Linked DNA regions of Homo sapiens: region 2 is linked to region 1. The links come from fine-mapping of genetic effects on gene expression. A gene starts in region 1. The other region holds a variant in brackets. All regions are shown on one strand. Distances are from middle to middle.

The links. PIP is the estimated chance that this variant, and not a neighbour inherited with it, causes the effect.
Region 2: its variant is fine-mapped to the expression of MIF4GD-DT in naive CD8 T cells (Schmiedel 2018, PIP 0.95).

Annotation. Positions count from the first base shown.
Region 1 is chr17:75,269,139-75,273,646 of GRCh38, forward strand. It overlaps MIF4GD-DT (MIF4GD divergent transcript), which reads left to right and starts at 2,161. Exons shown (of 1, transcript NR_036520.1): 1 at 2,161-4,508. It overlaps MIF4GD (MIF4G domain containing), which reads right to left and starts at 2,093. Exons shown (of 6, transcript NM_001370592.1): 1 at 2,006-2,093; 2 at 976-1,107. The coding sequence starts at 1,057. SLC25A19 (solute carrier family 25 member 19) reads right to left here. Exons shown (of 8, transcript NM_001126121.2): 8 at 3,854-4,501. The coding sequence ends at 4,313. RefSeq lists silencers at 1,660-1,729, 1,840-2,499, 3,470-3,519 and an enhancer at 3,008-3,795.
Region 2 is chr17:75,241,536-75,245,535 of GRCh38, forward strand. GGA3 (golgi associated, gamma adaptin ear containing, ARF binding protein 3) reads right to left here. Exons shown (of 17, transcript NM_138619.4): 4 at 3,084-3,182; 5 at 1,912-2,035; 6 at 1,528-1,631; 7 at 1,296-1,376; 8 at 801-938; 9 at 80-161. Among named protein-coding and RNA genes, the nearest start is that of GGA3, 18 kb to the right of the region's middle. RefSeq lists an enhancer at 1,461-1,510. The variant G/C (reference allele first, on the strand shown) is at 2,487.

The DNA.
Region 1 (4,508 bases):
TGTAGTTTCTCAGGAAACACATCTTTTCCTGGCACTAGGTTGAGGAAGGAATACTGACCAGGACATGCCTCCAACAGCAATTTCACAAGAAAAAGTGTTCTTATACTACACACATGCAAACCCCCAACAAGAGAGGGCCACATAGGGCCTCCCAACAGGCTCGGCTTGACACATGATGGGTGTTGCTAATTATTAGTTGAAGACAAACCTCTGTACTGCGTGTTACAGCGGGAAGGCATCAGGCGAGAGCAATTACTATAGCTCCTCTGGCAAACGGAATATTCTCCATCTTCTGTCTCAAAGCAGGCAACTGTGCATTCAAGAGACGGGGCTATGGCAGCACAGAAACCAGCAATTCAAATGTAAGCGCTTCAAGGGCAGGAGCCGTGTTCTTTTTTTTATGGTTAAACTTTTTTTTTTTTTTTTTTTTTTTTTTTTTTGAGACAGGGTCTCGCTCTGTAGCCAGGCTGGAGTGCAGTGGCAGGATCATGGCTCATGGCACCCTCACCCTCCCAGGCTCAATCAATCCTCCCACCTCAGCATCTTAAGTAGCTGGGACCACAGGTGCCTGCCACTATGCCCGGCTAATTTTTCTTTTCTTTCTTTTTTTTTTTTTTTTTGTAGAGATGGGGTTTACACCATGTTTCCGGGACTGGTCTTGAACTCCTGGACTCAAGCAATCTGCCCACCTTGGCTTTCCAAAGTGCTGGAACTACAGACATGAGCCACTGCGCCTAGCCCTATGGTTAAACTTTTAAAACAGTCTTTACAGTCTGAGAGGTGACTGTGATTCATACTCCAAAATAATGGCCTCAATGTAGCTTGTCTTCCAGTTCAAGAATTACGTTGCCGACTCCTATCGTCAGAGAATGAGGGGAGGGGTGGAGGCATTCACCAGGCTCAGCCTCTGGTGCTGCCCACAGGGGCCCTTCTCTGTAGCTCCTGACCCCAGCTCAGGAGGGGTCCCGTGCTCACCTTTGAGTGCTGTCTTCAGCAGCTGCTGGGTCTCTGCATCAAAGGACTGGATTTTATACTCCTCTCTACTGGGCTCCCCCATGACTAGCCAGCCCCGGTAGCTCTTGACTGGGCTGGGAATAAGGACAGCACCTGAGGAGAAGAGGCGAAGGGAGCGGCCTCAGGTGTGGAGCGCAGGGCGGGTTCCGTCCTGCAGGCCCTGGACGGGGCTGACGGCGCGCTCGGGACAGGGACTCCTGGGCGGTCCGTGGCGTGCGGTGGTTGGCTGAAGGCCCACCAGGCTTGGCTTCTGGTGGGGACTGGGCATCAGCCAGGCACCTGCTGCTCAGTTTAGAAATCCCTCGCTTGTGGGATTACACAAGAGCGAGAAGCTGAAGCAGGAAAGCGCCCACCCTCCAGTCCCAGCAGGAGGCAGGAGTAGACTGGGGCAGGGTGTGTGCGGGCGGACGTTACAGTTGCTTAAATAAACCGGCCTGACGTTGCTGGCCCAGGAAGATGCCGGGTGAGGGCCAGGCTGGGAACTCCAAGCGGTGCGACTCTGTCCCCAGCAGGTCTCCGAGCCCCTCTCCCCAACCCTCTCTTTCTGGCTTTCGCCGAGTCCTTCGGTCTCAACACCCGCCGCTGCATCCCCCGGATGGGGCCGGCCTGCGTGGGTGGGGACGCAGGCGCCCTGTCCGCCGCCCCTGCCGGGAGCAGCCTGAACTCCCCAGACCCGTGCCAGCTTCTCCCTGGGACAGGCTGGTCGGATCGGCTCCCGAGTGGCAGTAACCCGGCCCTACGCACTCGAGACTCCTAATTCCTGAGCTCCATTCTGGAGCCTTCCTCTTACTGGGGGGCAGGATGATGCGCCCCGGAGAGGTGGCTCCCGCCGGAGGCTCCCCTCTGGCCGTAGGAGGCGCCTTTAGGGTCTCCAGCCCTCGGCCGTTCCCCCCGCGCCCGGAACGCCCCTCCCGGAGGCACAGGGCGGGCTGCGGAGCCCACGGCCCAGGGTCCCGCGGGCGGGAGAGGCGGCGTGGGAGCCGGGACCCACCTGCCGGGCCGGTGGCGCGCGCGCGTGCCCGGGGCCGCTCGGCGCCTGGGAGCGCGCAACCAGCGTCCGGCGCTGCGGGGCCCGCCGTGAGCTCATCTCCTCGCGCGGCGCCGGGGAAGGGTCGGCTCGCCCGCGCCACCTGCCGGGCCCCCGGGGCACTGCCCTGGCCTCCAGGCCGCCCCGGAAGCCGCGCCGCCTGCGTGGGACCCTGCGACGCTGCCACCCAGCCGCAAGCGGAACTCGCTTGGCTCGTCACCCCTTCACCCGGTGCGCCTGGGCCGTGTCCGGGCCCACGCCGGACCCGCCGGCACCTCGATCTTGCGCGTGGCCCCGCACCCAGCCCTCCCCGGAGCTCAGGTGCACTGGGCCGGGAGACACCGCTGGGCTGCGCGGCGTGGGAAGAGCCTGCAGAGCGCGTGGTGGGGACCTGGTGGCAGGAGGAACAGCATCAGCCCTGGTCGCACCACTTTCCCCGCTCCCCCAACCCAGGTAGAGAAGGCAGGGGCTGCAGGGCCGGGGCCAGCCACAACCCTCTCCCGCTCCAAGGAGGACATGGGCGAAGCGAGTTTCAGGTCATAGGGGCAGCCCCGAGAAAGGGGCCCCATTGGCAACTCGCGGCCGTCGGTTGTTGCGAATGCCCCTGAAGTGGCGCGGACCCCACCGCCCGGCGTCTGCCCTGGGTGACAGGAGGGCACCTAGAAGTGGGGGAAGAACTGCCGCCGCTCCTGCCGCGCGACCGGGAGGAGCGCTGCCGGCGCTGCCCGCGTTCTCGCCTCCTTTTAAAAGAACCGCCAAAGTGGTCACCGAAAACGGAGGAGGAAGAGAACGCTCAGCTGCAGCAAAAGAAACCAATGGGCAGGAAAGATGAAGAGAAGAAACTTTAACGGAATTTCATAAAAAATGCATTCAGGCAGCTGCATCCTCGTGGCCCCCGCCGCAGCCTGGACCTTGGGAACCAGCAGCCCAGAGCCAGGAAGCCCCAGCATTCAGGGCCCAGACAGACCCCAAAATCCCAGACCAGAGGCAGGGAAGGATGGTGCGAGGAGGAGCCCAGGACCCACACGCCAGGGCCAGGGCCAGCGCCGGCTCCCAGTGGGTGCCTCTTTCCAAGGCTGGAGAGGGAGGCAGAATGGAGGGCTTCCCAGGTCGGAGCAACCCTACAGGCCGGGCAGATGGAGGGAAGGGTGGAGGTCATGTTCTGGAGACCTCCCCTCAGCCTGGAACTGGTTTCTCCTCTGCCTCTCCGCCTGTGGGTGTCCCTCTGCTCTGGTAACACCCCAGGCACCAGCTGTGCCCTCACCAGGCTACGTGCCCGCCCCTTCCTTCTGCCATCCCCATCAGTGGGCTGCTTCAGAGCCACGGCCCTTCTGGGGCTACAGGGGAGGATGCACCCGCAGCATGCTCTGCACTGAGGAGCAGGCAGTGGGCGCTGATGCCACCTGTCCTGCTGATAGCTCCTCACCCAGCAAGGCTGACCCAGCTCTGGGTGAAAGAGGAGTCAGTGAGGTAGACTGGGGAGAGGCTGCACCTTCACCCACGCCTGCCCACAGCATGGCCCATCCACTTCCTGCACGGGCGCTGGGATCTGCTTTCCATGGAGCCCCACGGCCATGACCAGCCCGGTCCTGGGAGAGGACAGCCTGGGTGGTGGTGTGTCTGCAGACACGAAGGTCTGGGCACGGGGCCCAGAAAGTGACTGGCTCAGCCTGGAGTCTCCCCCAGCACTAGAAGCAGAGCTGCCAAGGGCTGCCGCTATGGAGAACATGGGATTTGAGGAAGGCAGGAGTCCTTTCCCTCATACTTTGTGAGTAGGCAGATGTGCCAGGGGAGATGGAGTAAGATAAGGAATGTGTGTTTAGCTTTAATGTCTATTAAATAGGTTGGAAAAACAGGCCAAGTGTAGGGACCTGACTCCTGCAAAGGGCCTACCGCAGCCCTCTGCACTCAAGCAGCAGCCCCATCCAGACCAGGAGTGTGTTCTGTTCTCCTGGCAGGCAGGGCTGATAGGTGTAGGATGGCGTCTGTTTCCTTTGGAGTGTGGGCTGGTCAGAGGAGAAACAGCAACTTCCTGCTCCTTCTCACTGTGTCGTTGGCTCACCATAGACCACGTCCTGCATTCCCTCTGATTCTCTCATGGGGAGAGCCCTGGACCTTCTGGTGGTGTCCCAGCTGGGTGGGTTCAAGGCTGCTACCCCGCTTGGGGCAGCTGGCCTGCAGGGAAGGGCCAGACGGCACCTCTCAGTGGAGACTGAATCTTCCTTCCTTCAGGAGGCTGCCTCCAGGGAAGACCTGGGGTCCTTCCTGCACTCAGCGCTGGCTGGCTGTCCTGTTCATGCAGTGGAAGACATTACAGAAGAATTCATACGAGAAGAACATGAAGCCTGTGGAGAGGGCAGCCTTCAGCAAGCTGGGGGACAGGCCCTTGAAGAAGCCCAGGGCGCCTTCCTTTTGCAGCACCTGCTTGGCACAGTCCATGAGGCCCTTGTATCTCCGTACCTGGGGA
Region 2 (4,000 bases), 28 kb before region 1:
CTTCTCACTCCTGTTGTGACAGTTCCCACCCACATATCCAAATGCCTGGCTTATCCCTGACCGTCGCTCTTTCACTCACCCAAACTGTTATCATTGTCCTCAGTCTCACTGGCGAGTTTAAATAAAGTCCGCCTCTTGTTCTCACACTGATCAAACAGCTCCTGAAAGAGACTCGGACATAAAAATCAAACCACAAAGGCCCTTAGAGATCATCTGATTCATTCAGGGTTCATGCCCAGAAAATGACCGGGATATGCCAATTGCCACGGTCAATTACCAGCAAAGCTGGGATCACAGCGCACGTCTTCTTGCCACCAGCCACCACCACCACACCACATCACCCAGGATGTTTGTCTAGGTAGCAGTCACCAGGATGGGTCAGGGGAAGTCAGTCCCCTCCTGCCTTCCAGGCTGGCATGTTCCTCAGAACTCAAAATATCCACCCAACCATGGCCTGCACCACATGGGCATCAGGGTTACAAGGAAGCCTCTCTGTCTTGATGTCCCCAAGGTAGTAAGGAAAGGGAGAGAGCAGGGGTGAGCACCGAGAGTGTGGTCTCTGGAGTCAGACTCAGGTTTCCATCTGGCCCTTACACCCTGGACAAGTCAGCTGATCCCAGGAGGCAAATGGGGACGCCACCCTCTACTGACGTGGCTGCTGTGCAGATGAGTAAGGTCATGAATACACTGCCAAGTGCACAGCCCGTGTCTCTGACAAGGCACGTGCTCAGCAAATGCTGGCTGAGCTCCTGAAGGGCAGCGCAGCCCCGGGAGGCAGCCTTTGCCGTCGGCGGTCCCACCTTCATCAGCTCTCTGTCCCCGTCCGAAGAGTCCTCCTGGCTGTAATGAAGCAGCATCTCACTGAGCAGTCTCACGTTGTTGTTAACTTCCTCTAACGTGTGCAGACGCTTGGTCACCTTCTGGATCCGTGCCTCGTCCTGCCCCAGTGAAGAAGTTCAAGAGAAAGAGAGCGTCACTTGACTGTCTTTCCACTTCCACCAGGTCACACCTTACCCCACAACACAAGTACAGACGCTCGGAAGCTCCTTTCAGTGTGGGGTGCCTGGGGCCCAGTCTATACTTCTGCTTTCACAACACTGCTCCCAACCCACTCCTCTCTTCCGTGCTCCCGCGGAAGCTATTGTGCTCCTCCTCCCACTCTCAGCCACCGGGGCACAGGTAGGGCAGCTGGCAGCAGGGGAGAACAAAACAGGCCCGTGTCCGGGGCAAAGCGGCTTCTGCTGTGTGGCCATGGGCTCCTCCACCCCGTGCCTGAAGGACCGGGGCCCACTCACTTCCTTCACCATGGACTTGATGAGCTTGTTGGCCTCCTGCAGGTCATCTGGGTTTTTGCTTTTCAGCAGCTTGGCTAAAAGCTGAGAGAGGAGGAAATCAGAGGTGAAGGGAAGAGGCAGCACCCGTACCCCAGGGAAACCCCAGAGGCTCCCCGCAGCACAGTGCAAACCACATTCCCCTGCTGCCACCCACTCTCGTATGAGAAAATCCCAGGCCCAGGGTGTCCTTTACCTTGGACTTCTCCTCATCATCAAAAACAGGGTTTTTGGGACGAGGTGGTGGAGAGGGGATCAGCGTCCTATCCACAGGAATTGGTGGGTCAGACTGCACTATGCCTGAAAGGGGACATGGCAGCACGTGCACTCAGGCTGTGGTTGCCTTGTCACCCCTCCTCATACACCAAGGGCCACGTCCCTGTGATCAAGACCTGCAAAGGGTAGCAGGGTGGAGGGCAGGCTGCTACACCTTATCCCATCCAACTCCGACTCAGCCTTGCCTGGGGACAAATGCTGTTCTCTTCAGGAGGGACTCTGGGGATCCCAAACCTTCCCTTCTCTCCTTGCCTGGGCCAGCCTTCGAGGGCTGCCTGGAGGCTGCGGGCAGGCAGACACGTACCCTGTCTCTTCAGCATGTGGTAGGCGTCTTTGATCTTTGCTTCTTCTGGCAGGGCCATGGTCCAGCTGTACAGCAGCTCAATAACCTTGGTCTTCACTTTCTCAGACACCCTGTCCCCCAGGTACTACATGGCAAAAGAAAATGAGGACCTAGTAAGTGCAGTTCGGAGGCAGAGAAAGTGTAAGGCTCCCTCCACAGCAATGGCGTGGCTGCTCAGCAGCTATGGTCCTACTCAAAATCTGCAGGTGTCCAAGTGTGTGTGAGACAGCGTGGGGAGGGGAACGACTCCCTGTGGTGTGGCTGTGTCCATCTGGATACAGTCTGTGGATAGGCAGGGGGCCAGGAGGTCATCACCTCCTGTCCAGGAAGTGTCCTGTAAGTGTATTCATGACCTTACTCATCTGCACAGCAGCCACGTCAGTAGGGGTGGCGTCCCCATTTGCCGCCTGGGATCATCTAACTTGCCCAGGGTGTAAGGGCCGGATGGAAACCTGAGTCTGACACCAGAGACCATGCCCTCGGTGCTCACCCCTGCTCTCTGCCTTTCCTTACTACCTTGGGGACATCAAGACAGA[G/C]AGGCTTCCTTGTGACCCTGATGCCCATGTGGTGCAGGCCATGGTTGGGTGGATATTTTGAGTTCTGAGGAAAGTGCATTTTCACGCACAAGTTGCCAGAAACACAACTGCATTTTATCTTGGGGGTGTCCATGAGAATGTCTTTAGCATGGTAAAGTATTCCCTCTGCTTTAAGTGGGGGCCCAGAGCTGCGCCACACCAGCGTGCAACAGAACACGGCCAGCTGAGCATCGGAGCAATGACGGAGGCCAGCTCCCCGTATCCACGTGACACAGGCCAAGAAAACCCACAAAACCCACAACTGCCATGTGCCAGGTGCCTAGAGTCCCACACTACATGGGCCCTCACCCTGGACAAACACACAGCCACTACCACATCACCTGTCAGATTTGGGCTGAGGGCGCTTCAGAAAAAGCTGCCGGTCCCTGTGGCCTGTTTGGTCATCCCGTTACCTCCAGGGCCTAGCTCTCTAAGGACAAGACACAAATAATCTCAGCTCCCTGGAGATGTTGGATGGGCAGTGAAAGCCAGTATGATGGGAGATGGGAATGAACACAAAAGAAGTCCCTAAAAGCGAGGAATCTGCCGCTGACTGACCTTTGGAGAGACGACTTTGATTAACTCATTCAAAAAGCGGAACTTCCCCACTTCGTTATGAAATCTCCTCCCACAGTTCTTCATGCATGCCTCCAGCACCTGTAGCCGCACAGAGGAGAGGCGCTCAGTGAGGGCGTGCTCGGGGCTGGAACCTGGCACTGGCAAGATCCCTGGCACCCAGAGAGTACTGAATAAACACGCCCACAGGAAGGAGCTCATCACGAAAAGCAGTGTGCACTGCCCGGGGACAGTGTAATTAAGCAACGAGATCACTCACAGACCATGTCCCTCCAACTGCAAACCTCTGCTGGGGAAGCTGGGCAGGGACTAAAGCAAGAAACCCCGAGACCCCGACCCCAAGAAGGCCTGGATGCCAGTCCTGGAAGGTGCCTTCCTTAAAGATTCTGGCCTCGTGTTTTACAATGAGGGAGGTGAGGTCCAGGGACAAAGTTTCTCTGACTTGGTGTCCTGGGTTTTTTCCACAAGCTCACCAACAATTGTGCAGGGAATGGGAGGGATGTTTAAATCCTATTATCTGTGAGAAAGATGACAGGATATTTCTCCTCCCTCCGCTTATCTCCCTAACTCACGCTTTGGCTTTCCTGTGCTGCCTGTGGTCCCTGGCACTGCGGTTTCTAAGGGGGAGTGCACTGTCCAGGCTCTCTTTCTTGGCTTCTGCATTTTAAAGCAAGGTTTCTCAGGTGAGGCCTGGCTGACATTTTGGGCTGGTCATTCTTCGTTGTGGGGGGCCACTCTGCACTTTATAGGGTGTCGAACAGCATCCCTGGCCTCTGCCTACTTGATGCCAGGAGGACCCCCACCCCGATGTGTGACAACTAAAAATGTTTCCAGACACTGCCAAATGTTCCCTGGAGGGCCCTGTTGAGAATCACTGGGTTTTGTTACGTTTTTTTTTT